Linked DNA regions of Homo sapiens. The protein of the gene in region 1 purifies or fractionates together with the protein of each later gene. This does not show direct contact. Each region holds a gene or a part of one and is shown in the gene's direction. Other genes may lie near its edges.

Region 1 (16,928 bases):
GAATAGTCTGTGACATTAACATCTGAACATACATTTATACATTTGATTAACATATTAATTTACAGAAATCAACTAACTAAATAAAAAAGGAAATCCAAGACAAGTAAATATTGATAGGGAAAGAAGCAATCTGGAAGACTGGCCCAGTGAATGCAGAGTTGCAGTGGTAAGAGTAGCCCTGCATTTGGAACAGGTGGATTGCCAAATTTACTAAATTTTAGGAAGAAGTCTAGGCAAAGAACTCTAACATCATAAGAAAAATGGAAAACATCCTAGCTATGGCAAATTCTGTCTAAATCTTAATTTCTCTGGGGCTAGTTTTGATTGGTATAGAATTTCAAAAGGAGATCTTCCCATGCCACTACCATAGCTGCAAGTTGCTGATGATCGCCTTTGACTTCTACACAAAGAAAACTGAAAAGAAGTTAGCTGATTTGATCAAACTCACACAGCAGGAAAAGGTATAGCTGTGAGAATTGGCTCACAGTCTTTTGAAATGTGAGATTTCAAAGCAGCAAGATGAACATGTCACTGGGATTCAACAGAATCAAAGCCTTTCATTTATTTTTTAAAATAGAATACAAATAAGATGGCAGACAAGGCTTAATAAAAAAAAAAAAAACAGAACAGACACAGAAAACAGTGGAACACCACAGACCACTTGTACTCACAATAATAGTAGTATACTGCTAAGCATGGACACTATCTGTTGACTTAGAGCTACTTTCTCAAGTAGGAAGATTATTACTACAAACAAATGTCCGGTAAGTCTGACACCAATATTTAGTAAAATAATAATAATAAAATATATAGGTATATATATTATATACACATATTATATAAATGTATACACTTTATATATATAGATATATGTAAATAGACATAAAAGCAAAGCATTAGAAAGGACATGAAGAAAGTGGAGTTAATGTGTTTGTCAGCAATAACTGGCATGGTTTTGGAAAGAACAGAACATGTCAGGAAATCTTGAGAGATTTTTCTAAGAAAATTATATAATTAATGAGGAAAAGCAAAGCAAATAAGTCTCTATTGTTAGCCACCTCGATGTTTAGTAAGAACAAAAGCAAATGAAATCACTGGAATAGTGTTATTAGAAACTTGGAAAGTTAACAGTCATTTATTGAAGTTGCTCTCTAATATTTAAAACATACCTCTGTATTAGGCCATTCTTGCATTGCTATAAAGAAATACCTGGTACTAAGTAATTTATTTTTTTAAAAAAGAAATTTAATTGGCTCATGGTTCTGCAGGCTATACAGGAAGCATAGCACTGGCATCTGCTTCTGGATAGGTCTCAGGAAGCTTCCAATCATGGCAGGAGGTGACAGGGGAGCAAGTGTCTCACATGGTGCCAGCAGGAGCAAGAGAGAGAGGGTTGTGGGGAGGGAGGTGCCACACTCTTTTAAACAACCAGATCTTGAGAGAACTCACTCACCATCATGAAGATCCTCCCCCATGAGCCAATCACCTCCTACCAGGTCCCACCTCCAACACTGGAGATTACAATACAACAAGAGATTTAGAGGGGACACATATCCAAACTATATCAATTCTGCCCCTTGCCCTCAAGCCTCAGTTTCTTCTCACACTGCAAAATACAAGTGTCCCTTCCCAACAGTCCCCCAAAGTCTTAAGACATTTCAGCATTAACTCAGAAATTCAAAGTCCAAAGTCTCATCCGAGACAAGGCAAGTCCCTTCCCCTTATGAGCCTATAAAATAAAAAACAAGTTACTTACTTCTAAGACACAATGGGGGTACAAGCATTAGGTAAACATTCTCACTCCAAAAGGGAAAAATCAGCCGAAAAAGGGGGCTACATGCTCCATGAAAGTCCAGAACCCAGCAGGGCAGTCTTTAAATCTTAAAGCTCCAAAATTATATCCTTTGACTCCATGTCCCACATGGAAGGCACAATGGAGCAAGGGGTAGACTCCCAATGCCCTGTGGATGTTTAGGGTGCAGCCCAAGTAGCTGCTCTCACAGGTTGGAACTGAGAGCCTGTGGTTTTTCCAGGCACAGGGTTCAAGCTGCCAGTGGCTCTACCATTCTGGGATCTGGAGGATGGTGGGTCCCTCCTCACAGCTCCACCCGTCAGTGCCCCAGTGGGGACTCTGTGTGGGGGCTCCAAAGCCACATTTTCTCTCCACATTGCCCTAGTAGAGGTTCTCTGTGAGGACTCTGCCCCTGAAGCAGGCTTCTGCCTGGCTACCCAGGCTTTCTTGCACACCCTCTGAAATCTAGGTGGAGGCTGCCAAGCCTCATTCACTCTTGCACTCTCTGTGCCTACAAGGTTAACCACACATGGAAGCTGCCAAGTTTTATAGCTTGTATCTTCTGAGGCAGCAGCCCTAGCTGTATCTAAGACCCTTTGAGCTGAGTCTGGAGCCAGAGCTGCCAGGATGCAGACAGCAGTGTCCTGAGGCTGCACCTAGCAGTGGAGCCCTTGGCCAAGCCCACAAAACCATCCTCCTAGGCCTCTAGGCCTGTGATGGGAGGGATTGCCCTGAAGGCCTCGAAATGCCTTTGAGGCCTTTCCCCCATTGTCTGGGATATTAGCACTTGGCTCCCTTTTCCAAGTATCTCTAGTAAATGGTTGCTCCACAGCTTGCTTGAATTCCTCTCCCACAAAAGCTTTTTCATTCCCTATCACATGGCTAGGCTGGAAATTTTCCAAACTTTTTTTCTCTGCTTCCCTTTTAAATAGAACTTCCAACTTGAAGTCATTTCTTTGCTTTTACATATAAGTGTAGGTTGTCAGAAGCAGCCAGGCCCCATCTTGAACACTTTGCTGCTTAGAAATTTCTTCTGCCAGATACTCTAAATCATCACTCTGAAATTCAAACTACCACAGGTCCCTAGGGCAGGGGCATAGTACAGCCAGGCTCTTTGCTAAGGCATAACATGCATGACCTTTGCTCCAGTTTCCGGTAAGATCCTCATTGCCATCTGAGACCTCCTCAGCCTGGACTTCATTGTCCATATCACTATCAGCATTTTGATCATGACCATTTAACCAGTCTCTAATAAATTCTAAATTTTCCATCATCTTCTCGTCTTCTTCTGAGCCCTCCAAACTCTTCCAACCTCTGCTTGTTACCCAGTTCCAAAGCTGCTTCCACATTTCAAGTAACTTTATAACAGTTCCCCCCTCCTCAGTACCAATTTTCTGTACTAGGCCATTCTTGTATTGCTATAAAGAAGTACCTAAGACTAAGTAATTTATTTAAAGAAAAGTGGTTTCATTGGCTCACGGTTCTGTAGCTTGCACAAGAAGCATAGAGCTGGCATCTGCTTCTGGGGAGGTCTCAGGAAGCTTCCAATCATGGCAGAAGATGAAGGGGGAACAGGTGTCTCACATGGCAGGAGCAAGAGAAATAGTTGTAGGGGACAGGGGCCACACTCTCTTAAACAATCAGGTCTTGAGAGAACTTACTCACCATTGTGAAGACAGCACCAAGCTATGAGGGATTCTCCCCCATGATCCAATCACCTCCCACCAGGCCCCATCTCAAACATTGGGAATTACAATTCAACATGAAATTTAGAGAGAACACAAATCCAAACTATATCACCTTCCTTTCCAAATCCTCTACATGCAGATATTTGAGCACCTCCATCATTTTTGCATTTATGTCATTGTTATGTAACAGAACATTCTATCCCAACTCCAAATAATGTGTCAGTGTTCATTTAGCATAGCTCTCCATTTATTTGGGTTTGGGAATAAGGCACCTCCTTCCATACTTACGAAATTTTATTTGCAAAGCACAGTCTAGAGTCAGACATAACTACTCTCTCTTGTTGAAAGGATTATAAGTGATAGTGTGACATTAAATGAAAATAAATCCAATATGGAATAAGTATACCAGAGATAATATTATCAAAAGATTTCCTCAGTGCTTTCAAGAATGTCTTGGAACACGGGCCTATTATCAAGAACTTAACTGGTAAAATTAGATTTAGGGTGAATGAGGCTTATTGAATCACATAAGCTCAGTTCACTGAAGGTCCCACATACTATTTTCTTGTAAATTCTCAAATTATAGAAAGGAGGCAGTCAGTGTTGACTGAAAGATTGGAGCAGAGTGAGAAAAAGAAACTAGATTCTTATCTTGCTCAGTTGCACTTACTGAGATCATTGAAGTTTAGTGTGTTGCATATATTTGCTCTTATTAAAACCCATCATATTTCTTCACAACAAAATCATAAGCAAGTCTAAAATGTTTAAACTTTTCATTCACACGATATAAAGTTTTCACCAACCCTCTATACACATACAGAGAAAAATCCTTCTAAACTCACTTTTGTTGCAGCTTTTTCAAATTTTCAAATAAACTCTATGAAATTTAGCTGAAACACTTTTAGTAGCCTTATCTATAAACCTTGAAGACCAAGGAAGCTCTGAGTGGTTATGCTAATTCAACTAAGTCATTCAGAGTACTTTTGAAAGTTTGCAAAGCTTTGTGAGTACATATGGGATCCATTTTTCCATGATCCTTCAACATAAAACTGGTCTCTTACTAGAGACCAGTTTCTCCATTGCAGCCATTTGAACTTTCCAAGGGATGCTAAACACAAATGCAGAAACAAGCAAAGAATAGATACATGTTGATTTTACAGTAAAGACAGCAGTACTTTGCTTCCTTTCTCATACTTCCAGAGGTAATTACTCCTCTGTGTTCTTTTCTCTGTACATTCCTCTCTGATGGCACCTCTCACAAACATCTGTCAGCCCCACTACACAGTGAACCCCTTAAGACAGAGATTCATTCATCTTTGTATCTGCAGTGCTTTATGTGTGATACACTGTAGGGATGCAATTAAACTTTGTTGAATCGAAACATTTTGTTTCAATGGATCAAGCTATCTTTCCACGTCACTGACTTTTCCAGTATGGATACATTTTTATTTTAAAATAGAATATTATACTCATCATTACCCCTTGTCTCACAATTCTAATATCCACAATAAGATTTTAGCAACATTTTAAAAGTTCAAACAACATCAGGTTTAAGGAAAGCACTCCCTATTAGTATTCCAGTAATTGGAGTAATTGAAACCAAATGTTTCCATTCAAATCAGTTCAGCAAAGATTAAAATTTTCCTTATTTTTCCTATCAATATCAACAGCCATAATCTGAAATGTCTTACTGAACCAATCTCCTAGGTATTTTAAAATATAACACTGGGATTTTTAGGGAAGGAAAAGTATTCTGTATGGTACTATAATGATGGATACATATCATGATACATTTGTCAAACTCATGGAATGTACAGCACCAAGAGTGAACTCTAATGTAAACTATAGATTTTAGATGATAATGCTGTGTCACTGTAGGTTCATCAATTATAACAAATATTTCACACTAACGAGGTATGGTGCTGGAGGTGGAGCTGGAGGCAAGGTGAAAGGTGGGGAGTTGTGGGAACTCTGTACTTTCCACTCAATTTTACTGTAAACCTAAAACTTCCCTAAAAATGAAGTCCATTAATTTTTCTTTAAAAAAAAAGATAACACTAAGACTACATGAAGTATTCCTTTTCCTAGAAACTCAAACCTAGATGTTTTAGCACAGTTTCAAAGAGGGAAAACTGAAACCCAGATCGTGAGACCCACTGTTTCTTCTACTGACGTTTTTGAAATCCTCTACTATTTCAACCAAAGTCATTGATTCAATAAAGTTACAATTTGACAGTTTATCTTTTCTTAGTGAAGTTTACAAAGAGGGGCCAGATAGTGGCACTCTCTTTAAAATTAATAGGGAACTTTCAATGCCCTGCCATGCACTTGTCACACTTGCTGATACAACTTGACCAAATTTGCCTTGTTCTGGAACACACAGACTTTGGGTGGATGAGCAAACAGCCTCTGAGAGAGCAGCTGCTTTATTGCATGACTAAGGTGACCTCATCAGCCAATTGTGATACAGGAATTTTGAAAGGACTCCCTCTTTCAAGAGTTTATATTTCTATTCAAGTGTGGAAGCATGCAGTTGTAAATGCTTGCGCTTCAAAATGTATATTGGGATAGGGGTAGCAAAATGTTGGGAGCATCAGAGCAGTTCCTAAATACACTACAGGCAAAAACTTATTTTGATCTCAGACCAGAGTTTCTTAACATAGTGTCAAAAAAACACATTATTTCAAAAAACTATTTTCCCTATCTAAAGAGGGTTTAGTTCTTTAACAAGTTAGGAGTCCAACATTTCCCAAACTTACTTGGCCCCATAATTTTTGCTGCTGCTCTTGTTCTTTGGAAACTGTCAGTATATTTGGATGATAATACTAGTGGGCTGTTAAAAATAATTTTTAAATCATTTTACTCTAACATAACTTACTCACAATTATTTAGAGGAGTGAGAGGATACTAGATCAACAAACATGAGCAATGTTGAAGATTTTAACAGGAAATTAAGTATGGACTGAACCACAGGAAGTATACAACCAAATGCCTTTATGTCATCTGTCTTTGAGTTTCATCGGTCTCATTAGGGTCACTTCCAAAGTGGCCAGCTCATCTCACCAGTTATCTTTCTTAATGCCTTATGTTATCTTCCCAACATAAAATGATGCTTGTTACATACAATATAATGAGCTCATTATAATGAAATTAATGACTGTGTATAAGTGAATTTTATAATATTGTAAATGTGTTTTCTTCAAATATTCTTTATCCTGACGATAGAACCAGAACAGAAAAATTAATACTCCCCTCCCTTTTATCAGCTTTACCTAATACCATCAGAAGCTTCACTAAGTAAATGCTTTTTTGTCCTTTTAAAGGAAAGTATTGTCCTTCCAGGGGTAAAATCCAAGGAGGCTTAAGTTAAACTGGGTACTCTATAAATAAGCCACACTTGTTATATAAACTTTTGAAAGCTTATATTTTACTAACTTCTCTATCCTTATAAATGATTAGTCATCTAGTTCCTTGAGTTTTGTTTGTGTTTTAAACTTTAATCTCAATTAAAGCTAAAACTGTTATCTCTCCAGAGATACTGCCAAAATGTGAAAGATCATTACCTAAGAAGTACACATTATTGGTCTATCCAAATAGACTTTTATTTTACCTTGAGCAGTTTTTCCTCTGATACTGTGACCTTGGTATCAGTATGTTTACAAATTATGTCATATTTGTATACAATTAAACATTTATTTATTTATGATTGGTTTTAATTAAACTTTATTTTTTCCTAATATGCAAAATATGCAAAAATCAAAGTTTGATATACTAGTTATATTCTTAATAAATATGAAAATAATATTAAAAACCATGCACCCCTTAAAATCATCCTATGTATTGCCAGTCGATGTCTAGCACACACCTTGGAAAATATTAACATGGAAATTTCCTGCCATGGAAATAAGGGATGAGAATTGGAGTGGGAAAATGTGAAGATAGCCTCTTATAACTTTCCCTCCTATCAGATATGTGCAAAATAATTAAACAAAAATTATTTGTTTACTTTGCCCTGCTTCCTGCAGAAAAGAAGAGAACTCTTAAAATATTTTGATCAGATGAATTTTATAGTCAAGGACTATCCAAAGCATGGAGTAAGATACAACTCTATGTGATGAATTTCTATGTGAGTTTCTATATGATAAATTAATACGCCAAATGAAACAGTTTATTGAAACATGCAACTTTTTTAAAATAAACAAACATCCTCCAGAACCAAAGACTGATGCTGTTAATGCTTTAGACATGTGACATATGTGTGTGTACCTCTGTATGTTTAATTTTCTTTCTTTCTAATCAAGTGACCTGTTCTCGTTTGGTTAAGTTTCAACCACAAGACACCACTGTATGCTTTTTTTTTTTCAAGATACACGTCACAGCACACCAAGAAAAGGGGAACTTCCAGTGTCTGTGGTAACATCACTTGATAAACAGACTCCTTTAAACAGCAAGTGCCTGTCTGCATTCTACTATATAAAGCAGCAGAGACGTTGACTAGCGCATATTTGCTAAGAGCACCATGCGCGCAGCAGCCATCTCCACTCCAAAGTTAGACAAAATGCCAGGAATGTTCTTCTCTGCTAACCCAAAGGAATTGAAAGGAACCACTCATTCACTTCTAGACGACAAAATGCAAAAAAGGAGGCCAAAGACTTTGTAAGTTTGTTCAGAGTCTCACTTTGTGAATTTTAACAAGTTATCTTTAATGGCAGAAGGATTGAGAATGAATGGAAGAGAGTGTGAGCATTTAGTTTAGCCAGATCAGAGGAGTTAATTGCCTGTTGTGAGTAATAAGTAATATTCAGCTGCATTAAAAAATAAATCTTGATATGGCATTAAATTGGGTAGGAGTTTTTCTCTACACAGGCTCATAAAAATGGGTTCTATAGCAAAATGTTGTATCAACCATTTTTAGTATTGCCTTATTCCTTAGAGAAATTTATTCTATGTCTTTTTACAAATAAAATGAATTCTGAAGAAATATGAATATTCACTTTTATGTCTTTTGTAGTGGAATGGATATGAAAGCATACCTGAGATCTATGATCCCACATCTGGAATCTGGAATGAAATCTTCCAAGTCCAAGGATGTGTAAGTACACTAATACACTAAACTATCATTATCATTTACAAGAGAAGCCTATGCATTATCTCTATATCCCAGCAAGGGATAAATACTGCGCACAGTAGACTTCATTTCTTTTAAGTAACATGCCAAATAAAATTAGACTATCAGTACCAATGTAAATTGAATACAAATGTGTACACACACATATTGGACTTTATCTATTTGGATTTTTTCAAATTTTATTGGCAGGTTTTTTTTTTCATAACTATAGTAACTCTAAGGGAAGTTTTGCATTTTGTGAATAAATTTTAACATATTTATTAGAACTACAGTTTCAGTTTGTGAAGTTATCAAAGTGTAACAGCCATTCTTATTTCATTTGTGCTTACATTTTAAAAATTGACTAATGTATGTACATTTTGTCCCCTGCAGACTTTCTGCTGCTGAAGTAATGCAATGGTCTCAATCTCTGGAAAAACTTCTTGCCAACCAAAGTAAGTATAACTATTGAATGTTTCTGGGTTCAGCTAAATACTCTAAAAAATTGAATGGCTTCACTAAATATAGTATTCTGGGTAGGATAGTATGCAAAAGGTTGTATTCTAGTTTGTCTGTAGTTACTGATAACTTCAGCATAGTATGCCTCTTAATAATGCTGACTTAGCACTCAATTCTGCCAACTCCTTTTAGACAAATTTGCCAAGACAATTAGGTATTTTCATAGATCATTATGGAGATAAAATTAAACATTGTGCTGGGATTCTGATATGTAAAAATTTTAAAAGTAAGCCAAATATTTTAATATGTACATTGCCATTTTGAAATCTGCCTAAAGAATGTATTTTTCTACACTTGGATGTAACAAGTATGATTCATTCATTCAATTAATTAAATTATCTTTCATACATTCATCATTCATCTCACCCTTATGTAGAGGACATTGTAGAGGTACCAAGGATTCAAAATCAAAGACAGTCTCTTACTGCCTTGAAGGTGGTTGAGATACATAACATAAATAATTGCATTATTATAACATGATAGTTTTTATGACATAAATATGATAGAAGGATTTTTAAGCACATATAGTCTTGTGGAGATTTTCTGATGAGAGAAGGTAAAGAATGAAATCAGCTTGCCATCCCCTTGTCTTGGGCATTACAATTCTACTGAGATTAGGACCTTTTTCAGAGGTGTAGATGAGCAGTGTGGTCTCTATCTCTAAAGAGTGAGATTATTCTTTTCTCCCCACAGACACCCTAAGGAGCTTTACTTGGGAATCACATTGTTCACTCTAGCTCAGCTGACTTTGTTTATAATTCAGCTAAACAAATAAATGGTATAGATATGGACCATAAATGGTGCCATATAAAAGTCTCAGTGAATGCTAGCAAACATAATTAGTACATCAGGCCTACAGATCATATATAGGCCTAACATTTTCTGGCTAATATAAATTAGATGGGGAAATTATATTTACTAATTATTGTGATGTTAATGCCTTTTGTCAGTGTTTGCTTTCCTAAAATACTCTCTACTCTGGCTAAGATTTGGCATATATAAAAGATGGTTTTATATTCAGTGGAGCAGAATTTCAATTCAAACCGCGGATAGAAGCAAAACAGTTTGGTAGCCACCATCAAGTAGCAATGTGACTATGAATGAGTTTGTCTGGCCCCAGATTCCTCTTCTATGAATGAAGAAATTTCAAATGACTTCTCATCTCTACAATCTATAACACAGCTATTTCAGCAGTAGCTGTCTCTTACCTTTGTATGAATAGGAAGCAATTGTATTTTTCTTACAAATTTCTTCTTCAAATTATTCATTTGTTGGTTCATTTAATTTAATTATCTCCCCACCCACCCCTCGTTTCTTTTTAGCTGGTCAAAATGTCTTTGGAAGTTTCCTAAAGTCTGAATTCAGTGAGGAGAATATTGAGTTCTGGCTGGCTTGTGAAGACTATAAGAAAACAGAGTCTGATCTTTTGCCCTGTAAAGCAGAAGAGATATATAAAGCATTTGTGCATTCAGATGCTGCTAAACAAGTGAGTATTAAGCTTATCATCATCAGTTTCTCCATAAAAGACCCTATATGCAGAAATAACATTTAATATATACAACAAGATAAAATCCTTTTGGGGTATATAATTTTACTTCTACATACTTAGGCATATAAATATAGTTCAGTGCAATGAGAATCTAATTTTCTATATTGGTGAGGGTTTCAGCACAGTAGAATAAAGAGACTGATTTTACAAAACCAGCTGCCATGATGAGGGTGAGGGAAGGGTTAAGGGTATTGTTACTGACCAGAACTGCATGTCAGGGAGTCCTTAATGAGTGCTCTTGTTTTGGATAAGAAAATGCAGATTAGCATAATGTATACAATTGCAGCAGCAAAAGTATTTCCAATTAACAGTATTACCAGATAAATATTCTTGGTCCAAGCAGAAAATATCAACAAAAAGAGCCTTCTTCTCCTGTAAATCTTAAATGCCTACATCACTCTTTATGATACATGGATCATCTTATGTGGATACTTAAATTTTTCATGTCTGCTTCTTTTGCCTCTCCTAACTATACTATGAGGAAATTTGGAACAAAGACATTTTTGTAATATTTCTTATCTCCTTCACACCTAGTATAGAGCTGATTTTACAAAGGCATTTAAGAGATATTTGAATTGATTTAAATGAGGCCTTAAAATTACTTTCTGAGGTGTTTCAAAAAACAGTAACATCATAAAATTTGCAGTAAAGAAAAGTATATATTAGCTAACAAGGTTTTCTTTTTTAGATCAATATTGACTTCCGCACTCGAGAATCTACAGCCAAGAAGATTAAAGCACCAACCCCCACGTGTTTTGATGAAGCACAAAAAGTCATATATACTCTTATGGAAAAGGACTCTTATCCCAGGTTCCTCAAATCAGATATTTACTTAAATCTTCTAAATGACCTGCAGGCTAATAGCCTAAAGTGACTGGTCCCTGGCTGAAGGGAATTAACAGATAGTATCAAGCGCAGAAGGAATGTGCCAGTATGGCTCCCTGGGTGAACAGCTTGGCCTTTTTTGGGTGTCTTGACAGGCCAAGAAGAACAAATGACTCAGAATGGATTAACATGAAAGTTATCCAGGCGCAGAGTTGAAGAAGCATAAGCAAGACAAAAACAGAGAGACCGCAGAAGGAGGAAGATACTGTGGTACTGTCATAAAAAACAGTGGAGCTCTGTATTAGAAAGCCCCTCAGAACTGGGAAGGCCAGGTAACTCTAGTTACACAGAAACTGTGACTAAAGTCTATGAAACTGATTACAACAGACTGTAAGAATCAAAGTCAACTGACATCTATGCTACATATTATTATATAGTTTGTACTGAGCTATTGAAGTCCCATTAACTTAAAGTATATGTTTTCAAATTGCCATTGCTACTATTGCTTGTCGGTGTTATTTTATTTTATTGTTTTTGACTTTGGAAGAGATGAACTGTGTATTTAACTTAAGCTATTGCTCTTAAAACCAGGGAGTCAGAATATATTTGTAAGTTAAATCATTGGTGCTAATAATAAATGTGGATTTTGTATTAAAATATATAGAAGCAATTTCTGTTTACATGTCCTTGCTACTTTTAAAAACTTGCATTTATTCCTCAGATTTTAAAAATAAATAAATAATTCATTTAAGATTCTTCTTTCTACCATCTCTTTTAACATCTAAAACTATTATCTAGTGAATACTATATTTTATGTATTAGTTTGGACAGAATTCACAATTTTTCTCTCTGCTATCACAAGGCACAAAATCAAACAAATATAATATGATCTCATGTTCAATAAGAAATTGAAGTCTTTTAAAAAGGGATAGAAAATTTATTTCAAGAGGTAATCTAATTAACAGCATATATTTTATTGTGAGTTAAAGTTCATAAAATCTAGACATATTTTCTCATTTAACATTCATAGCAATCCTATGAAAGCTGAGACTCAGAAAGATTAAGTCACTAGTTCTTAATTTTAGGTAACTCTCAAAATTATCTAGAATGTTAAAAAAACACACACATATCCCTGTTTTGGGGTCCCATACCAGAATGACTGAACCAAATCTCCAAAGGGTAGCATATGGGAATCTATATTTAAAAGAAAGCCCCAAGTGAGTCTGAAGATGATTTTATAATTCAGAGTTCAGAACCTGGGAATTAAGGGACAGTCATACTAGCAGGGATTGCCCAGAAGTCTTCCTACTACAACCTATTCTCCTTCCTCTATGTAACACTGCCACCCACTGATCAGAAGGCATTTCCTGAATCACTAAAGTCTGCAACAGTCCTAAGTGTCACCTAAGCAGGAAAAAAGACTCCAAAGTAGGGCTCACCTACAGAGAGAAGAAAAATCATCAAGATGATGCATATTCCTGAATAGCCTGTACAGCTCTTATCTCCCCGCGCACCTGTGCTTTATATTTTATTCAATAATCAGTCACTCACATATCACAATGAAATACGGTTAATGTATGGATAATCTCACTATGGACTGGTCCAGTCATCAGGCACACAGCAATGGTAAGGGGCAATATGCAGATCAGGTACAAACAGAATTATTCTTGAGTTGTCATGGGACAGAGTTTAAATTGGTTCTACTTTATGCTTTATTCCTGCTTTAAGTAAGAGAAACTTGGGAGTCCAGTGATAATAATAATAATGATAATAAGCATCATCATCATCAGTCATCTCTCTCTCAACTCATTCCATCACCAAATTCTGCCAATAATTCTTCTACAATCAGTGTCTGTGGTTAGAACATCGCTTGCTCTTTTTTATTACCCCATCCTAGTACAGGCTTTCATAGTTTGCCAATTCACATGACATGTTCTTTGTCTTCCCAGTGTCTTTTCTTTAATTTATCCTCTGAACAGCTACAAACATCATCTTCTGAAACACAGATTTGGCCACATCATTTCCCATGACATATAAAATGAAGTATACATGTCTCCCTCTGGGCTTCAAAACCCTCCCAGTGTAACCTTCATGATATAACTCTCATTACTCAACTCTGGGTATCCTTCCTACCTTGAAGTCACACTGGATTATTCACCTTATCTTATATAATTCCAAGCCTTCACTATCTCCAGCCTTTGGTTATGCTCTACTCTCTAAAATGCCCTTTCCTAACCCATTCCGGTTTTCAAAGTTAAAGCAATTCTTCAAGGTTTTGTTTGTTTTGTGTTGGTTTTTGAGACAAGTTTGCCTAGGCTGGAGTACAATGGCGTGATCATGGCTCACTGCAGCCTCAACCTCCCAGGCTCAAGTGATACCCCTGCCTCAGCTTCCCAAGCAGTTTCCAAGGACTGTCACATTAATTATAGTCCAGGCCTTCAAGACTGTGAGGAGCAAGCAGTGCAACTGTCTAACACACTCACCAGTCATACAATAAATGCTCTGGTTCTTCTCTTGACAAAATGCCAAAAACCATTCGATTTTAGACAGAAGATCAAAACAAGAAGCCTCTTCATTTTGACCAAAAAAAAAAAAAGTCATCCTGGTTGCATAGATTCAAAATAATGTAAAATACTTGAAAAGATAAATTTTTATTGTCACTTTTTTTTTTTTGGAGATGGAGTCTCACTCTGTCACCCAGGCTGGAGTGTAAGGGTGTGATCTCAGCTCACTGCAACCTCCACCTTCCGGGTTCAAGTGATTCTCCTGTCTCAGCCTCCCAAGTAGCTGGGGCTACAGGTGCCCACTACCATGCCTGGCTAATTTTTGTATTTTTAGTAGAGATGGGGTTTCACCATGTTGGTCAGGCTGGTCTCAAACTCCTGACCTCAAGTGATCCACCTGCCTCCCAACATGCTGGGATTACAGGCATTAGCCTCTACGCCTGGCCTATTGTCACTTTTTGTTATGATGTGACTGTTTCATTAGATCATTCACAAAATATAATTAGAGCTAGTGATATCTACTATTTAAAAAATTTGATCCAACTGGACAATCTGATTTTCAGTTCACAGGCTATGTTCTTTTGTAATACTAAAGCAATGGCAGTAAACAATAGCATGGCTAAAAGCCAAAAATGTTTTTTAAAATTTACTTTTCTCAAGCTTATTTTGCAGTACTTTAAAATATGCCTATCCCAGAAAGCTATGAATCTATGAAGGTGAAAATGTGGGTAATGGCGTCTCATAAAAATTACATATTTACCCATTTAGTTTACATGGAATGAAGTTCAAGTTTCTTTGTTTCTGTGTGCAAACATGGGCTGTATTATACTAGTAGGAATCTTTGACAATCTATTGTTGAAAATTAAAAAACTAAAATTTGTGAGGGAAAAAATATAGTAAAAGGTGGTTTAAAATGCCATCAATATAAATTATTTTATATAGCTATAGAATTTTTGCAAGACTAGGATGAAAACATCTATAAAACAAAAATCAACAGTCAGCTACAGAAATAACTCTATCCTTTTTGTTGAGAACAGTATCTTGAAGCTAAAGCTGTATCATCCCAATAGCAAAATTTTATATCTTACTACATGCCTAAACTAAATGAAACCTTCCTACAAAAAATAGAGACAAAATACAAAACCTTCTATGGATGTTTCTCTGCAGTAAATATTTGACTTGGTATATACTCCTCAGTGGCTCCTTTACTTTGAATATGAAAATAGGACAAAAAGAAAAGACAGAAAGAGAGAGGGAGAAAGGGAAAGGAAAAGGGAGATGGGAAGAGGGAGGGAGAGAGGGGGGAGCACAGGAGGAAGGGAGGGAGAAGAAGAGAAGAGAAAAGGAAAAAGCATTGGTGAAGCATCTTAACGTATCTCATTTGATAATCTGAATGACTGAACTGTCATACTTTTAATATTTTACCTTCTCAAATTGAAATTTTAATCCAAAAAGGATTTTGCTGTAATTTAGAGTTGGCTATATAGACTTACTATAAAACTTCCATAACTTCATAACTGATAGATTAGGCCAGGGATGTCAATCTAAGTCTAAAAGAACCAAATTTAGAAACCTATGGGAACCATGCCTTAATTTGGAATATTGCCCCCATTTAGGGAAGATCCATATGGTACACTTGATGATTGAGAAAGGAGTCAAGCTTGCAGGATTAGGGAGCTGATTTATTTACATGGGAAGAAACAGTGTATTGTAAGTAAATTGTTTTAATTTAGAAAACTTTGTTGGTCATGTTTATTATGTTTTCGAATTTAATGTTTACATCCTCTTCCCTCCCTCTCCTGTCGAACTCATAAGCAGGGTCAGATGTCAGCTAGGAGCCACCTAGCTGAGTATGACCACTTCAAATATTTTAGGGAGCATTTCAAATGAACACGCTCTATGTCACTCGAATGAAAGAAAAACCAGCTTCCTCACTTCTCAAATAAAAACTCTAAGACTTCCTGGAAGATTTTTTTTAGTAAAAAAGCTATTCAAATAATACATTATAATAGACATGGGCTTTGTTCATCCAGGAAAAGTACTGGATTTGCTTTTGTTCTATGTTTAACTTGCATTTTTACTTTTACTTGTCATAATAGTAGCTGGTTTCTTTTGTCCTTTTTTTCGTCCTCTTTTTTTTACAGGGAAGGGATGTTACGGTGGATCTTGAAGAACAAATATAACCCAACCAGGGGAGAAAGAAGGTGAGAACATTCCAGATTCAGGGAATAGTCTTAAAAAGTCTGGAAATCAGGAAAAAAAATACTGTGTTCAACAATAGTGATTTATTTAGTTTGGCTGGAATATATAGGGAAAGAGAAAGTATAAGAGGGAAAGCTAAAAAGGTAGTTTAGAGAAGATTCAGAGAGAAAATATAGTCTACTCCGAAAAGAGTGAATTTTTATCTTTTACAGGATAGGTAACCACTGACGTTTTAAGCAAAAGAATAAAGTCTTAATTGTTTCTGAATGTCTACTATGGGGCAGGCACTGTGCTGGATACATGTGTTATCTGTTTAATCCACTTTAAACTTCTTTGAGGTGAGTATTGTTAGGCTCATTTTATTGATCCACAAATGCAGAAACAAGTGGAAAAAAGTATCTAACAACATATAACTAGTGAATGGCAGATCTAAGATTTGAACCTAGGTTTGTATCTTTCCAAAGACTCCCCATTATGTCATGATTCTTCATGGAAGGGAGATGATTTATTTGTGTTTTAAAAAGGGTAATTCTAGATTAACTATGAAAGACACTTGCAAAAGAAGACATAATTGAGGAAGGAAACCCAAATATGAGGCTGGTTTTGTAGCCCAGCAAATGAGAATCTGAGCCTGAAATAGGGCAGTAATCAAGGCAATGGGAAGGACAGGGCGAATAGGCAATACTTGGTGAGCAATTTGCTTCGACGAATAATTAATAGAGAGAATTTAGGATACATTTGA
Region 2 (17,176 bases), on another chromosome or scaffold:
TATTTTTCCCAGTCCTTTTTTTAAGAGACGGTCTTTATTGGGTCTGCACCTCCATCCTTGATCTTGTTAGCAATGCTGTTTTTGCTGTTAGTCGGGTTAGAGTTGGCTCTACGCGAGGTTTGTTAATAAAAGTTTGTTAAAAGTTTGTTTTGTGCAAGTGTCCTTTGTGCGTCCAGGCCAGGGCATCCATGGACGTCCTTGGGCTGCCCTTTCCCTTGGCGCCTCCCAGGGTTCCCATAGCAACCACCGTCTGCAGGAGGGGCCGCCCTTGCCCCTCCTCCCCGCCCTGCCGCTCAGTGGAACGGCCCAACCCTCCCCTGGCTGCGGTGAGCGCTGGGCCCAACCCCCGGCCTGGAGCAGCGCCCCAACTCCGAGCACCGTGGAGCACCGGCTGCCAGCTGAGACCCCAGAGGGGTAACTAACGGCCTGAGGAAGGCATTTCTTCGGGGAACATGGCGTGCCCGTCGTGGCTACGTTCTGCCAAGCCCTGTGACGTTGGAGGGGAGCCGCCTGCATCCCCCGCTCAGCCAGTGTTTCTAGACTCCGAGACATCTGGAACTCGGAAGTGAGGCCAGGGCTCCAGGAAGACTCCCTGATGACGCACTGGCCCGCAGCCCAGGCTCAGGTAGTGGGGGCTGTCAGGATGATCTGTGGGATCCCCCAGTGTCCGAAGAAAGAAGCCACAATTGTGTTTTTTTTTCTTTCTTTCTTTTTCTTTTTTTTTTTTTGAGCGAGTCTCACTCTGTCGCTCAGGCTGAAGTACAGTGGCGCGATCTCGGCTCACTGCAACCTCTGCCTCCAGGGGTCAAGCAATCCTCCCACCTCAGCCTCCCAAGTAGCTGGGATTACGAGCATGCACTACCACGCCCGGCTAATTTTTGTACTTTTAGTAGAGAAACTTTTAACTAAATGGGCAAGAAAGAATGCATCCAGCCAGAACCTCGAGACTAGCAAATGCATTTCTTAAAAGGGCAGGGAGGGAGACCAGAGTTTGCTTGAAAATACTGCTTCCTTTCCTTATCTATGTAGGGAAGGGTTTATCATTCTACATTTTGTGGTCAGCAAGCTGGCTTTCACGGGAGGAGGATGCATGGTCGATTTGCCCTCTGGTAACTTTGGGATCTTCCTCTAAACAACAGTGGACTCCCTTAGCCAAGGAAGAAGTGAAGGGATAATTGTGCTTACACCAGTTAGCTTTTCACACTTCTCTCTCTCCCGGTGCAGCACTGCCGGTAGGGGGAGCAGTGAGCTCCAAGTTTCCAGGAATAATTCAAAACACAATTATTTTATATTTTAAAATATAAAATGTATATTTTAAATATATATACATACATTTCTATATAATATATACAAAAGTTCAATATACGTATATTGAATATATATGTATATAAGTTCAATATATATGTATGTATATTCAATATATATGTATGTATATATGTATATATATTCAATATATATGTGTATATATTGAACTTTAGTCATGTGGTGACACTTTAAACAGTACACAGAGCAGCTTCTGGGTCCATGACCCTCCAAAAATTTAATTACTGATTCTTTAGAAACTAGGCAACTCAGCCAGGTGTGGGGGCTCACGCCTGTAATCCCAGCACTTTGGGTGGCCGAGGTGGGTGGATCACCTGAGGTCGGGAGTTCAAGACCAGCCTGACCAGCATGGAGAAACCCTGTCTCCACTAAAAATACAAAATTAGCCAGGCGTGGTGGCACATGCCTGTAATCCCAGCTACTTGGGAGGCTGAGGCAGGAGAATCACTTGAACCCGGGCGATCGCACCATTGCACTCCAGACTGGGCAACAAGAGCATAAGAGCAAAACTCCGTCTCAAAAAAAAAAAAAAAAAAAAACCAACCAGGCAACTCATTTTGATGAACTCTTAGCTATGTGGTAGTTGCTTTTTTCATGTGTCAAGTCTGCTATATTCCTGCACTCAGTATGCAAAGATGCATAAAAGGCAGTCTTAGCCTTTTAGGTCAGCGGTTGGCAAACTTTCTGTGAAGGGTCAGGTGGTAAATATTTGAGGGTTTGCAGTTACCCGTTCTCCGTGGGAACTGCTCAACAACTCACTGCAGAGAAAGCAGCCGTGGGCAAAACGTACAGGAACGGGCGAGGCTGTGTTCCAATAAAACTTTATTATTTATGGACACTGAAATTAGATTTTAATATGATTTTCATGTGTCACGAAATCTTTTTTTTTCCTAAGCATTTAACAAATGTAAAAACCACTCCTAGCTTGGGAGCTATTGGAAAACAGGCATCTGGAACCACAGTCTGCAGACCCCTGTGTGTACTCACTGTCAGTGCGGTGGGAACAAAAAGGCAGCAACGGCTGGGTCAGCCCAGGAAAGAAGACATTTCCCAGTGGAGAGAATGTCTGAGTGGATATTGAACTTTCCAGGCCACAAAGAGGAACAAGAGCATTCAACACTGAGGAGCCTGCCTCTGCAAAGGCAGGACCCACATGCTGGATGTGGAGCTGGATGGTTCCACGTGGCAAGGTTTGGGAGGCTTCTGAGAACCTGGCCTAATGATTCCTGTTTCCTCCCTTTTCAGGTGAGTTAGGGAGATCTCTGACAGCTTTTGGAATTGGTAACACAAGGAAGTCAGTTATTAGCAAATGTTGTACTGGAAACGTCCAGTTATAAAATAATTAATTGTGTGAAAGTCACTGCCTGCTTTTGATCTACATCCAGCAGGGGAAGGTCAGGGACTATAAATTGTTTGCATTTTTTAAAGATAGACTTTAGCATGTTGCTAGTATGCTTGCATTATTAGATAATACATCTCTGTTCAAATTCACTTTCTGCTTCAGTTTGCTTCTCATATAAAAGTCTTCGCAAGTATGTTTGGTGGAGAAGCAAACTTTTTGGCGTATGCGTGTGGTGTTGGCTTTTCATCCTTGCCAAACCTTCAAGATTTGCAAGGAAAAACAGGTTGCAGGGAGGTGCTCTGGGTTACTTTGAAAAGACCTCACATGCTGACTTGTGCTGACTCAAGCTGAGGAAAGCTAGAACATTCCTCTGCTGGAGATGGCCTCCTTGTTTAGAGTCCTTCTGACACTGTAATTTGGGTCTGACAACAGGAAGTTCCTTTGTAGTTTAAGTCAATGGGAACCAATTTTTTTTTCTTTTTTTTGCGATAGAGTCTCACTCTGTTTCTTAAGATGGAGTACAGTGACTCAGTCATGGCTCACTGCAGCCTCAACTTCCTGGGTTCAGGTGATCCTCCTGCCTCAGCCTCCTGAGCAGCTGGGACCACTGGTATGCACCACCATACCTGGCTAAGTTTTTAATAGAAATGGGGTCTTGCTAAGTTGCCCAGGCTAGGGAACCAGTTTTTAAGTTTTTGAAATATGCTTGGAAATATAAATATTGGTGAGCGGAGCAGACCAGGAGATCAATAATTTATGTTCTCTGCTTGTTAGTTGTGTATATAGCATGTTCTTTTGTCTCTCTTAATGATGTTTGGGGTGAGGGTGTGGGAGAGGAAGGTAGGGAGCCTTCCAACAAGAAGCTAGTGCTCCTCCAGCCTAGAGAAGCTAAAACATGCAAAGCCAGACCCCATCCCTGGAAATTCTGATTTAATTGGTGGGGGAAGGCATGTGAATTCTCACAGAGGGTCCGGTTTGCAGCAGGACTGGTGATTTCTTTCCAGGTGCCTTGTTTTGTTAGACCATGTGGTCACTTAATAATTTTTTTTGGGCCAGGTACAGTGGCTCATACCTGTAATCCCAGTGCTTTAGGAGGCAAGGCAAGAAGATCGCTTTAGGCCAGGAGTTCAAGACCAACTTGGGCAACATAATGAGACCTTGTCTTTAAAAAAAAAAAATTTTTTTTTTTTTAATTAGCCAGGGGTGGTGTGTGCCTGTAGTTCTAGCTACTTGGGAAGCTGAGGCAGGAGGATCATTTGAGCCCAGGAGTTCGAGGCTGCAGTGAGCTATGATCATGCCACTGCACTCCATCCAGCCTGGGCAACAGAGCAAGATCCTATTTCTAAAACAAAACAAAACAAAACAAAAAATGTAACTTGATACCTGTGACTTTCTGAAACTAACAGCTGTTTGAAGAAATATATTTCTATTACCGTTCTTGTGTTTGATGGAAAGAGTTTATGAATAACTTTGGTTTCAAGCCTTCCAATTATATTCTGGAAAATACCTGTGTCTTAAAGAGATAGTGTCTAGGGAGAACTGAATCACTGCAGAGTTCTTCACCTGTATGTGTGGGTATGTCTAGTCTTTTTGCAAGTAATGAATTTCATTAGAAAGATATTAAGTGCTTGTCATGAGCAAGCCCCTGTGCCAGAAACTCAATATAAATCATTTCATTTTCTCACCCATATGGTGAAGTAGTTGATGAGGACACTGAAGCTCAGCCATTTGCTCAAAGTCATGGCTAATGGAGGGAGGATTCAAACCCACATCAGCTTGATTTCAAAGCCTAATAGTCCTGCCACTGTCAACACCCTGCCTAGATCATGATTATTTGGAATCACTGGGAAAGAATTTTTTTTTCATGAAGTTAGAAGCCTAAGAATTTTTTTCAATGGAATTTTATAAAAATGTCCTTGAATCACAGATGGCTCTCCCTGGAAACATAGGTTTGTTTGAGAGTCACCTCTTTTATTGTCTTAATAAATAGACTAAGAGCCATCACAAGGGCTACTGTGGCTAGAGAACATATGACTCGGGCCGGGCATTGTGCAGGCATTTGACCTGCATTCCTTCACCCCGGTTCCTGTAACATGTACCTGGTGCTGTGGGGTTACAGCTGATAATGCTGAGGTTTCCAGAGCACATGCTTCCAAGTCCAGTGGAGAAAATCCCAAGAAGTCCAATATTCAATGACTGTTCCTTATTGCAAAATAAGCCCAGAAACAAAGTAGCTGTGAACAGGCTGCACCAGCCCCAGCAGCAATTTCCATTTAAACCATTTTGCACAGATCCCGTGCTCAGCGCTCTCGCCAGTTTCTCCACTTGCTGTTTAGTAAGGCCATCATTGTTGGCAGGAAGTGGGTTCCACCTTCCCTGTTGCCTGAGCACAATGTGCTCCTATGTGGTCTCCACTTTCCTGCTGCCTAGTTGGCTGGGCTTCTCCAGCTGGGCCTTGGAGGCGACCTTTGTCCCACATGCCAGCCCTCCCCACGTTGCAGAACACTATGTAACTGCAGCGTGTGCTGAATTTCCTCTTCTGTGCTCAACCCTAGCAAGAGCCAGTCAACCCTGAATGAGAATGTGGCAATGGAGCTGTTTTTTTCTTTTATCCCCAAGTCACAAGAAATTGGAAACATTCCATTAAGTGGCGTGATTTGAGAGGGTTTCGCCAAATCTTTTCAGGGGAGAGAAGCCAGGTGACCTGATAGCGATCACCTTCCCATTCACGGTTTTCAATGGGGGCTTGTTTCTCAAATGACCAACACCTGTAGGCAGTTAATTTTCAGCATGTCACAGGAGGGCCCAGATGACTTTCTGCCTACTGCTTACGACAACATGGACTTTAGATGCCTCATGGCTTCAACAGCTAAGAATTATGAAATAAAGCGAGTTATGGGATTAAAAGGCAGATAGCAGAACTCTCCCAGGAGTAGCCAGGGCTGCACAAGTGGTTTGACGTGGGATCTTTCTCATCTTTGCCCCGGGTTGTTGCTGCTTTGAAGGTTAAGTGCTCCAGGGATATTTTTAAACAGCAGGGGCTGATTAATCTAAAAGTGACATTTGCAGTCCCCAGAGTAAGCAGCTAGCAGGCTTAGATTCAGGCCCTCAGCAAACAAGGAACCTGGAAAATGTAACCCTGAATGCACGGTGGGGAGGACATGGCAAGAGAAAAGCGGCAGGAATAAAGTGGTAAGTCAGCTCGCCCCTCCCCGGGGTCCGGACCATTCTGCCAACGTCCAGGTAAATTCGAACCCAATGTATAGTGAGAGCAGACCCTGTCTGAAGGCATGCACTTGGGGTCCCCGGGGAAAAACGACTCCCGTCATGTTTGAAGGAAGCTAATCAGAAGAGCTCGAAATGTAACGCAGATGAAAGAGAAGGGCCTTTCTTTGCTTCTATAAATGGTGGTGTGGATCCCTGGACATGCTCCCATATAAGTTCCACAACGTTTTATAAACAATTCTGTTTTTTGCCTCCAAAGCTACTGTCTTAAGGAATAGTATTCTGTTTCTGTTTCCTCAAATGGTTGTTCTTTTTTTTTTTTTTTTTTTTTTTAAAGCAGACTAAGGCTGGGCACGGTGGCTCATGCCACCCAGCACCTTGGGAGGCAGAGGCAGGTGGATCACTTGAGGTCAGGAGTTCGAGACCAGCCTGGCCAACATGGCGAAACCCCATCTGTACTAAACACATAAAAATTAGCCAGATGTGGTGATGGGCACCTGTAATCCCAGCTACTTGGGAGGCTGAGGCAGGAGAATCGCTTGAACCCAGGAGGTGGGGGTTGCAGTGAGCTAAAATTGCGCCACTGCATTCCAGCCTGACTGACAGAGCAAGACTCTGTCTCAAAAAAAAAAAAAAAGAAAAGAAAAAGAAAAAAAGGAGACTAAGAGTAAAGCGTTTGTAGTGGTCCTATATCCTATATTTCTAGGAAGACATGACTTTCTTTCAATGTTGAAAAAATGCATTCCAAAATAATATGCAAGTTAAAAAGTCACTCAGCACCGTGCAAAAGTCTCCTTGCTGTTATTCCTGTCTAACCCTCCTCCTCCAGGTAGCCACTGTGCACATTTTGGTATAAACCCCCCAGACCTTTTATTCTGTACACTCACACTGTACACAACTCTCTCCCTCATGTCTATTGTGATTACTTTTATTTTTTAATATCAATGGGCATCCATATAGGTTGGGTGACCAACCATCCCACTTTGCCCAGGACCGGGGAATTCCCGGGACATGGGACTTGCAATTTAAAAACTGAAAGGTGAAGATATTATTATTATCATTATTATTTGAGATGGAGTGCTCACTGCAAGCTCCGCCTCCTGGGTTCACGCCATTCTCCTGCCTCAGCCTCCCAAGTAGCTGGGACTACAGGCACCCACTACCACGCCCGGCTAATTTTTTTTGTATTTTTAGTAGAGACAGGGTTTCACTGTGTTAGCCAGGATGGTCTCGATCTCCTGACCTCAAGTGATCCGCCCGCCTCGGCCTCCCAGAGTGCTGGGATTACAGGCATGAGCCACCGCGCCTGGCCAAAGATATCATTTTATAAATTGCATGTTTCTGCTAATAGTGACATGGAGTTCTTTACAAGATTTCTTTTTATGACTTCTCCAAGTTTTAAGTGGAAAGACCCAGCCAATCCTAATTCATGTGATTTAGAGATGAAAATATCTCTAATCTGTAACTTTCTTTCAGAAGCTCTTAAGAGTTTTATTTGCTCCTGCTCAGGTGTTGTGTAAACTCGCTCATACTTTCAACACCTTTAGGTCTGAGACAGAAATTTGAGTATTACATTACATGAGATACCCAGTCTTCATGGGGAAATAAACATTTTAATCTTTTGAAATGGAGGTTTCCTTGAAGTCTTATCCCAGTAGAAACTTTGACCTTGTTCTTTTTTTTTTTTTTTTTTTGAGACAGAGTCTCGTCCTGTCACCCAGGCTGGAGTGCGATGGCACAATCTCAGCTCACTGCAACCCCTGCCTCCCAGGTTCAAGCAATTCCTCAGTCTCAGTCTCCCGAGTAGCTGGGATTGCAGGCAAGCACTACCACGCCCAGCTAATTTTTGTATTTTTAGTAGAGATGGGGTTTTGCCATGTTGGCCAGGCTGGTCTCGAACTCCTGACCTCAAGTGATCTGCTCACCTTGGCCTCCCAAAGTGCTGGGATTACGGGCATGAGCCACTGCACCCGGCCTGGAATACCTTGTTCTCATGCTTCCTCTGAATTTGTGATTCAGTGACTTGTTACTTCAAAGTAGAGTTCACCTGTACCCAGGGAAACCAGGAAACAGAGTTAGAAATATTGCATTTGATCGGAAAAATGTATGCACATTTCACATCCTATCCTAATAGATCTCTCTGTTTGCAGTGATAATAGTAAATTTATGACCGTAGAGTAAGGTGATTTTCTAGGAAGATAGACCGTGTTCATTTATTCCAGGAATCCAGGGATCCTTGTATCAGAGAATCCAGGCTGGGCACAGCAGAGAAACCAAGGTATTGATTATTGGGTAGTTGGCATACCCCAGGTATGCCATAATAATTATGGGATCTCACATAATTTTGAGGACAATCCTAGGAAGGAGATTTTATTTATTCCATTCCACAGGCCAGGAAACCAAGGTTCAGAGAATTTCCATGATGGGCTCAGGCCAATCAGATAACAAATGGCAAAGCCTCCACCCAAGTCTGCTGTACTCCAGAAGTCCTGCTCTCTGGGCTCATACCTTAGCCACTCTGACCCTTGCTGGGGCCCCAGAAAACAACTACACATAGAAAAGGTCTCTTCAGGCCAGACACAGTGGCTCACGCCTGTAATCCCAGCACTTTGGGAGGCTGAGGAGCTAGATCACTTGAGGTCAGGAGTTTGAGACCAACCTGGCCAACATGGTGAAACCCTTTCTCTACTAAAAATACAAAAATTAGCTGGGTGTGGTGGCTAGTGCCTGTAAACCCAGCGACTTGGGAGGCTGAGGTAGGAGAATCACTTGAACACAGGAGGTGGAGCTTGCCGTGAACCGAGATGGTGCCACCGCACTCCAGCCTGGGCAACAGAGCAAGACTCTGTCTCAAAAAAAAAAAAAAAATGATTTTGAGACAGGGCTGGGTGGCTCACGCCTATAATCCCAGCACTTTGGGAGGCTGAGGCAGGCAGATCACTTGAGGTCAGGAGTTCAAGGCCAGCCTGACCAACATGGCAAAACCCTGTCTCTACTAAAAATACAAAAATTAGCCAGTTATGGTGGTGCGCCTGTAATCCCAGCTACCTGGGAGGCTGAGGCAGGAGAATCGCTTGAAACTGGGAACCAGACGTTGCAGCAAGCTGAGATCGCGCCACTGCACTCTAGCCTGGGCGACAGAGCGAGACTCCATCTCAGAAGAAAAAAAAAAAGGATTAAAGGATTTTCCACCACTCCTGTTGAACTAATTAAGCTCCATATTTTTAAATTAAATAATGAGTGAAGGTGATATCAGAGGACAACTTGAACACACTCTCCTTTCTATTTAGAAGCAAATCAGCTGCAGACTTCAATACTAGCTATTATAGAATAATCAGTTGTTGGACATGCCCCTCCCAACTGACCTAGAAGGCTTTCTCTGCTGTGTTATAAGGAAGGCTTCGGTCTTTTATTTCCATACTCCCCACAAAGTGAGGCTTTTGGAGCTCTTCTGATATGGAGAGCTGCCCATGCAAGGTGGAAACAGGCCTCCAGGGCCAATCAGTTTGGGAAACACCAGGCTGCCTGTGGTTTACAGCAGGACTTCTCAGAGCCTTTACTATGCTAAATGCAGTGGGACTCTCCAAGATGTGACATTGGGATTTGGCCCTAGAAATGTTATTTTTTGGCAAGGGTGGGGACCATCTTTCAGGATTGGTATTCATAGCCACCTCTTGCAAAACATGGAACCGTTTCATTCCATGCCTTCCTCATCTCCTTGCAGGATCCTGGGAGGCAGGACCATGGAGTGGATGAGGTTCACAGGCTCGAGCTCTTGAGCAGGGGGCAAGGGGTGTGTGTGTGCATGTGTGTATGCATGCATGTGTGTGTGTATGTGTGTGTGTGTAAATAGAGCACTGTCTCCCAGGGTTCTGGATGAATTTGAACAGGGAGAAAGTAGAATTGATTCAGTGAGATCTGCTAACAGGCTGTTGCACTAGCTCAGCCTTGGAGTGAGGCAATGGTGGGCGTAGGGGAAGGGATGAAGAAAACACACCCACACACGTGTGCCACACACGTGCACACCTGGAGCTGGAGGGCCCAGCCCGGGGCCCAGCTCTGCCACTCACTGATGTGACTCTGAACAACAGACTTTCTCTCTGTGCCTCATCTTATCATTTTTGTGAACATTTAAAGAGATAACACACACAAAGTGCACAGCATAAGACTCAGTGTGTAGGAGGTGCTCAACAAACATCAGCTTTCTTTTTTATTTTTTTGAGACATAGTCTTGCTCTGTTGCCCAGGCTGGGGTGCAGTGGCGTGATCTCAGCTAACTGCAACCTCCACCTCCCAGGTTCAAGCGATTCTCCTGCCTCAGCCTCCCAAGTAGCTGGGACCACAGGTGCATATCACCACACTCGGCTAATTTTTGTATTTTTAGTAGAAACAGGGTTTCACCATGTTGGCCAGGCTGGTCTCGAACTCCTGACCTCAAGTGATCTGCCCGCCTAGGCCTCCCAAAGTGCTGGGATTACAGGCATGAGAGACCACACCTGCCAGCTTTCATTCTTATTCAACATGCTTTTATGGGTTCCTTGAGGGACTACTATATGCCTCCTAGTGTATACTGGAGTTACAAAAGAACCCTATTTTCAGAGTTGCAAATAGACTGGGGAAGGGGTCGGGGGAGATGAAGTCAGAAATTGATGATAAATCTGTGCCCCTCTGGGTTTTAAGCCTTGCCTGCTCTCACAGATCTTACCTTCTAGTGGGGGACACTGGTAGATGTGTAATAATGACCCACATAACTACAACCTATGATGAGTGCCAGGAGGAAGAGATCAGGGAACTGTGGGGCATAGAGCAAGAGCATGGTGTTCCATGGCATCTCTCTGGTGGCCCCTGATACAGCAGTATGAGGGAGCAGCCAGCAGGGGTTCAACAGCCGTGCAGATGCCTGTGCCCAGGGCCTCACCTGGACACTCCCAGCCCCAAGGACTCAGTGGAGCAGGAGGATTCCCCAGGTAGGCAGCAGGGGTGGGGGTGGCACAGACACACCTGAGCTGGGTGCAGGCCTCCAGCAAGTGTTCACTGACCCTGACGCTTCTGTGTGCTAGGCACTGTGCTGGAGAGCCCAGAGCAAGACAGAGCCACTCCTTGCCCTTAGGAAGCTTCTATTCCAGTGGAGAAGAGGCATAAACTCATTGGTGAATGCAGAGAGTCAGGTCAGCACGTGATGAATGGCACGTGTCCTACAGAATAAGACCACTGAGTATCAGGGTGGGTTTGAGGTGGGGACACTGAAGCCAACCATCAGAAAAAGAGCAAGAGATAACCATGCAAAGGACAGAAGTGGGGGCAGGGAAGGGAAGAACATTCCAGAACATTCCAGGCAGCATGTGCAGAGGAACGTAGAGGGGTCAGTGTGGCAGAGGCCGGTTTGCCAGGGCCATGTAGACCATGGAAAGGGGTGCAGTGAGCAATCATTGAAAAGGTGAAATTCAGTTTATCTGCTTACTACCCGGGTGAGTGACTTTGCGTCACTTCAACTTCTCGAACCCAGAACTTCCTCATCAATAAAACGAGGCTTCCCCTGCTACTGGTCTCACAAGGTGGAATGAGACAATGATTATAAAATGCTTCATATAGGCCAGGTATGGTGGTTCATGCCTGTAATCCCAGTGCTTTGGGAGGCCAAGGCGGGAGGATTGCTTGAGTCCCTGTCTGTATAAAATATAAAAAGTTTCGCTGGGCGTGGTGGCACATGCCTGTAATCCCAGTGCTTTGGGAGGCCGAGGAGGGGGATTGCTTGAGCCCAGGAATTCAAGGCTGCAATGAGCTATGATTGTGCCACTGCACTCCAGCCTAGGCGCCAGAGTCAGACATTGTCTCAAAAAAAAAAAAAAAAAAAAAAAAAGATGCTGAATACAGAGCCTAGCACAAATTAGTACTCATAAGTATTAGCTATTAATATTCAGGTTTCAGTCAGCTGGTGGGTACTTGCATTGTATTTTATGAACTTTTTAACTTTTTGGTATAGGAAAAAAAGTTGACCTGTTTTTTTTTAACACCTTCAGAAGCAGAGTAAATAGCACAGTGGTCCCCCAATGCATTCATCAGCCAGCTTCAATAACCATTGCCTTTCTGCCCTTCTAGTTTCATCTTCCTATACCCATTTTCCCTATATTATTCCCCCAACATTTTATTATAAAAAAATTTAAGCTGGGTGCAGTGGCTCATGCCTGTAATCCCAGCACTTTGGGGGCCAAAGTGGGCGGATCACGAGGTCAGGAGATCGAGACCATCCTGGCTAACATGGTGAAACCCCGTCTCTACTAAAAATACAAAAAATTAGCCGGGCGTGGTGGCAGGTGCCTGTAGTCCCAGCTACTCAGGAGGTTGAGGCAGGAGAATGGCATGAACCCAGGAGGCGGAGCTTGCAGTGAGCCGAGATCGCACCACTGCACTCCAGCCTGGGCGACAGAGCGAGACTCCATCTCAAAAAAAAAAAAAAAATTTTTAAACATACAAGTTGAAAGAATTTTACAGTGGGTGCCCATATACCCCTGATTAGATTCTGCCATTACCATTTTTCTGTATTTGTCACCTGTAAATTGCAGATATCAGTGTCTTTATCCTTGAATACTTCAACATGCATGTCATTAATTAGAGCTCCAGAGTTTTTTTTGTTTGTTTGTTTATTTGTTTGTTTTAAGAGACAGGGTCTTAGGCCGAGCGTGGTGGCTCACATCTGTAATTCCAGCACTTTGGGAGGCCGAGGCGGGCAGATCACTTGAGGCCAGGAGTTTAAGACCAGCCTGGCCAACATGGAAAAACGCCCATCTCTACAAAAAATACAAAAATTAGCCAGGCCTGGTGGCATGCACCTGTAATCCCAACTACTCAGGAGGCTGAGGCAGGAGAATCTTTTGAACCTGGGAGGCAGAGGTTGCATTGAGCCAAGATTGTGCCACTACACTCCAGCCTGGGTGACAGAGTGAGACCCTGTCTCAAAAAAAAGAAAAGAGACAGGGTCTCACTCTGTCGCCCAGGCTGGAGTGCAGTGGCACAATCTCGGCTCACTTGCAGCCTCTACTACCCTGGGCTCCCATCTCAGCCTCCAGAGTAGCTGGGACTACAGGGACACACCACCACGCCTGGCTAATTTTTTTTTTTTAATTTTTATTTTTTAGGTAACAGAGTTTGCCATGTTGCTCGGGCTGGTCTTGAACTCCTGGGCTCAAGCGATCCTCCTGCCTTGGCCTCCCAAAGTGCTGGGATTATAGATGTGAGCCACTGCATCTGGCCCCCAGACTATTTTCAAGCAATTCTCACAGCTAGATGTCACACTGTTTTGCCCGTAATACTTTAGCACACATTTCTAAAAGACACAAGTTTTTTTTTTAAACCATTGCCATAATTATATCTATCTAACAGAATGAATGATAATTCCTTAATCTAGTACCTAGTTCATGCTGACTGTCCTCCAGGTGGCTCAAAGATGTCTTTGAATGGTTTTATTCAAATCAGGACCCACAGGGTTTCTCTTAAGTCTCCTCATCTGTAATAATCAGCAACTCCCTTTATTAAATGCCAGTTACTTATTGAAACTGGGTCATTTGTCCCGTAGAATTTTCCATATTCTGGATTTGGCTGATTGCATCTTCCAAGTGTCATCTAACATGTTCTTCTATACCTATAAATAAGTACTAGGTCAAGAGGCTTGAATCAATTCAGGTGCAGATCCTTAGCAGGAATACTTTGAAGGTGTTTTTCTGTTTTCTCTTGCATCACGTCAAGAACATAAAGTTCAGTTACCCCACTTTTAGTGATTTTTGTTCATTAGTGAGTTTAGGGTATCAGTCTGACCTCCGTCGTAAAGTTCCCTATCACCCTCTTGCCGAATGACTTTACTGCCTGCTGATGAGCAAAGCCCAGATTATTGTTTCGTTACTATAGTGATTTTCTACTTCCGTCAATCTTTCTGTGCTTATTAGCTCTTGTTGTTTTTTGTTGTTGTTGTTGTTGTTTCTGGTTTTGTTTGTTTGTTTTGAGACAGGGTCTCTCTCTGTCATCCAGGCTAGAGTGCAGTGGCACAATCTTGGCTCACTGCAACCTCAACTTGTCAGGTTCAAGCGATCCTCCTGCCTCAGCCTCTTGAGTAGCTGGGACCACAGGCGCTCGCCACCATGCCTGGCTAATTTTATGTATTTTTGATAGAGATGAGGTTTCACTACATTGCCCAGGCTGGTCTCAAACCTGAGCTCAAACGATACTCCCGCCTTGGCCTTCCAAAGAGCTGGCATTACAGGCATGAGCCACTGTGCCCGGCCCAACTCTCATTGTTCTCTACCACACGACTTTCCTCAAGCATTTGCTTACCCTGAAATACAGTCCCTGAAAGGCAGAGTACATGGTTGATTATGTCCTTTTTTTGTGTGTGGGCGGGGCTAAGTCTATTTTCAGAGTAATGAGTAGCCCTAGCAGCCATGAAAAGTATCAACGAGTTGTTTTTGTTTTGAGGGGTGTTACGACCTTATGGTTTTTAAAGATATTTTGATGTGTTTCAATCCACTGCAGTCATCATCCGTTTGCAGCCTCTCTTTGGTAGCCCATGCCCCTGGAGGGTCCTTGTTTTCAGGCAAGAAGATATCTCAGCTCATCATGTACATTTCTGCCCCAGCCCTAGAATCAGACATTTCTCCAAGGAGTCCTGGTTCCTTTCAGTGGGAAATGTTCTTAGAGACATTATAATCTGGACACTAACGATGTCTGTGGAATTTTTACAAGATCGCCTTGGCTTCTCTGTGCATGATGAACTGGAGGGACAAGACCAGGCCAGAGAGACAGGTCAAGAGACTTTCGCAGTGGCCCAAGTGAGATATAACAGTGGCTTGAACTTGATCTTAGGTAAATCACTTAGCGCAATGCTTGGTACATGATGGAGAGCACCATAAATGGTAGCACACTCTTTCATCAATGACTTGATCTGTATTAGTTTACTTAAACTCCAAAACTGTATGAGGAAGACTTCCTTATCATTGTATACATGAGAAAACCCAAGCTCAGAGAGGTGAGGAAACTTGTTCAAGGTCACACAGGAAATGAACAGCAGAAATAGAACCTGAATCCAGATCTCGTGCTCTAACCAATGCACTGTGTCGCCCAGAGGGTTCTTGGTTTCACACTCAAAAATGACTTACATTTTGGTGCAAAACCTGATCCATCACGAGTTCATGGCGATTCTCCTGGTTGTGCCCTCAGGTTTGTGATTTTATTTGCTTCCCAGTGAGATCATAAACCCACGAGGGCAGGGCTGGGCCATTCCTGCCTGTTTGCTCCATGTCTCCAGCAGCGTGTACCACACCTGGCAGGTGCTCAGGAAATACCTGCTGATGAATGAGTGAATGGCTGAAGAAGGCAAATTCACAGCACAGCAGGGGGAGAAGCGAAGAAGGATAGGATTCCACCTGTGAAGATGGCAAGGACCAGAACTTAGGAGAGCTGAACAGTGGACTTCAGCAATTTCTGCAGGGATAATTCAAGTGAGAGGCTAGCCAGACAGATCAGACTGATAGGCCTTTAGACTGCGGAACATGTTTTCCATTGGAGGTGGAAAAACGGCTCCTCTTACCTTCCTTCAAGGCAGGGGCCGATCTGGAACCATTCAGGCCAGTTTTGCTTGGGATGGCAGATTCACCACATCAAGAATTTGATCTGAACCAGGCATGGTGGCTTATGCCTGTAATCCCAGAACTTTGGGAGGAAGAGGTGGGAAGATTGCTTGAGGACAGGAGTTCAAGACCAGCCTGGGCAACACAGAAAGACCCTATCTCTACAAAATATAAAAAAGATTAGCTAGATGTCGTGGTGTGCACCTGTAGTCCCAGCTATTTGGGAGGCTAAAACAGGAGGATTGCTTGATCCCAGGAGTTCGAGGCTGCTGTCAGTTACAATTGTGCCACTGGACTCCAGCCTGGGTGACAGAGAGAGACCTTGTCTCTACACACACAAAAAAAATAAAAAATAAAAAGAAAGAAAAAAGAAGTTTGGTTTGTCTCAACAGGCATTAATTGAGCACCTACAGTGTACCAGGCATTGTGGATGTGCATCTTTCTGGGTCTATACTCTCAGAGGGCCCTGGGAGACTCAATCATTTGAGTAATTTCCTGGCTGAGGGAGAAGCTGAAATGTACAGGCTTCTCTTAAATATGTTTTGCTCCCTGAAGTTGTTCCAAAATCAGAGGCCTTGAATGCTGTACACCCGTACTCTAGGATGGAATGGTTTGGGATTTGGCACAAAACCAGAGATGTAGTAATCTTTTGCTTACTCTAGCAGTACTGGCTGGGATTCCCTGAAGACCCAGATGCTCTGACATGTTGTAAGTTTGAAAACTGCTGACCCTCTTTTGGGTGTCTTTTTCAGGCTCTGATTCCACCAATCCAATAGGGTAGCCCATTAAACAATTGAATCAACGACCTGGTCACCTCCGCCTATGACAAATCTAGCTTTAGAGTCAGGTAGCCCAGGGTCGAATGCCATGTATACCTCCAAGCTGTGTGACTTCAAACAAGTCACTCCACCTCTCTGGACATTGGATTCTCATGTGTGAAATGGGATACTTGTAAACAAGATGCTTATAGTGGAAGGCATTATTGGTATTATTAATTATTAGGACAAAGCTCTTACTCAGGAGTTCAAGATCAGCCTGGGCAACAAAGTGAGATCCTGTCTCTACAGAAAAAAAAAAAACCCAAAAAACCAAAAATTAGCTGGGCATGGTGGCACACGCCTGTAGTCCCAGCTACTCTGGAGGCTGAGGTAGGAGGATGGCTTCAGCCTGGGAGGCAGAGGTTGCAGTGAGCCAAGATCATGCCACTGCACTCTGGCCTGGGTGATAGATCCAGAATTCGCCTAAAAAAAAAAAAAGAATAAAGTTCTTAGTATTTGCAGTCAGGGAGTGTCAGGGAGCACACTCACTCCCTAGATTCCTAGAGATGACAGTTGCAATTATTTTGCTGTCCCCGAACATTTGTTCCTCTGGTGTAAGGGAGCATGGTGTGTCACCAGTGCCGTCAAGCACAGTTGCAGGGGAAGGCGAAGTTCTTGGATCACACCATGGGGTGTGCCTTTTCAAGTCTTACAGTTCGCAGGGAGGGTAGACCTCCCTCCACTGCCAGCTAAAAGTTGTCACGTATCTTCTTCAGATGTAAAAATCTTAAAGGATCATCCTTCACAACATAGCTGATTTGCTAATCACAGCTCCTGCTTTAGGAACTTTGGCAGAGTCCCCAAGAGTAAATTCTGCTTGAGATGTCCTGCTCCCTTGGCAGCCTGGCGAG

What was found.
Region 2: the proteins of RGS1 (region 1) and ACACB purify together in Homo sapiens (affinity purification with mass spectrometry; 2 studies listed by BioGRID and IntAct, with this or other methods). This does not show direct contact.

Annotation. Positions count from the first base shown.
Region 1 is NC_000001.11:192,567,794-192,584,721, forward strand, and holds RGS1 (regulator of G-protein signaling 1), read left to right. Parts: upstream 1-7,979; 5' UTR 7,980-7,999; coding exon 8,000-8,136; intron 8,137-8,491; coding exon 8,492-8,572; intron 8,573-8,980; coding exon 8,981-9,042; intron 9,043-10,428; coding exon 10,429-10,592; intron 10,593-11,343; coding exon 11,344-11,529; 3' UTR 11,530-12,231; downstream 12,232-16,928. UniProt on the Homo sapiens protein: Regulates G protein-coupled receptor signaling cascades, including signaling downstream of the N-formylpeptide chemoattractant receptors and leukotriene receptors. Inhibits B cell chemotaxis toward CXCL12.
Region 2 is NC_000012.12:109,110,848-109,128,023, forward strand, and holds the start of ACACB (acetyl-CoA carboxylase 2), read left to right. Parts: upstream 1-5,739; 5' UTR 5,740-5,857; intron 5,858-7,806; exon of another isoform or gene 7,807-7,937; intron 7,938-13,298; exon of another isoform or gene 13,299-16,748; intron 16,749-17,176. UniProt on the Homo sapiens protein: Mitochondrial enzyme that catalyzes the carboxylation of acetyl-CoA to malonyl-CoA and plays a central role in fatty acid metabolism.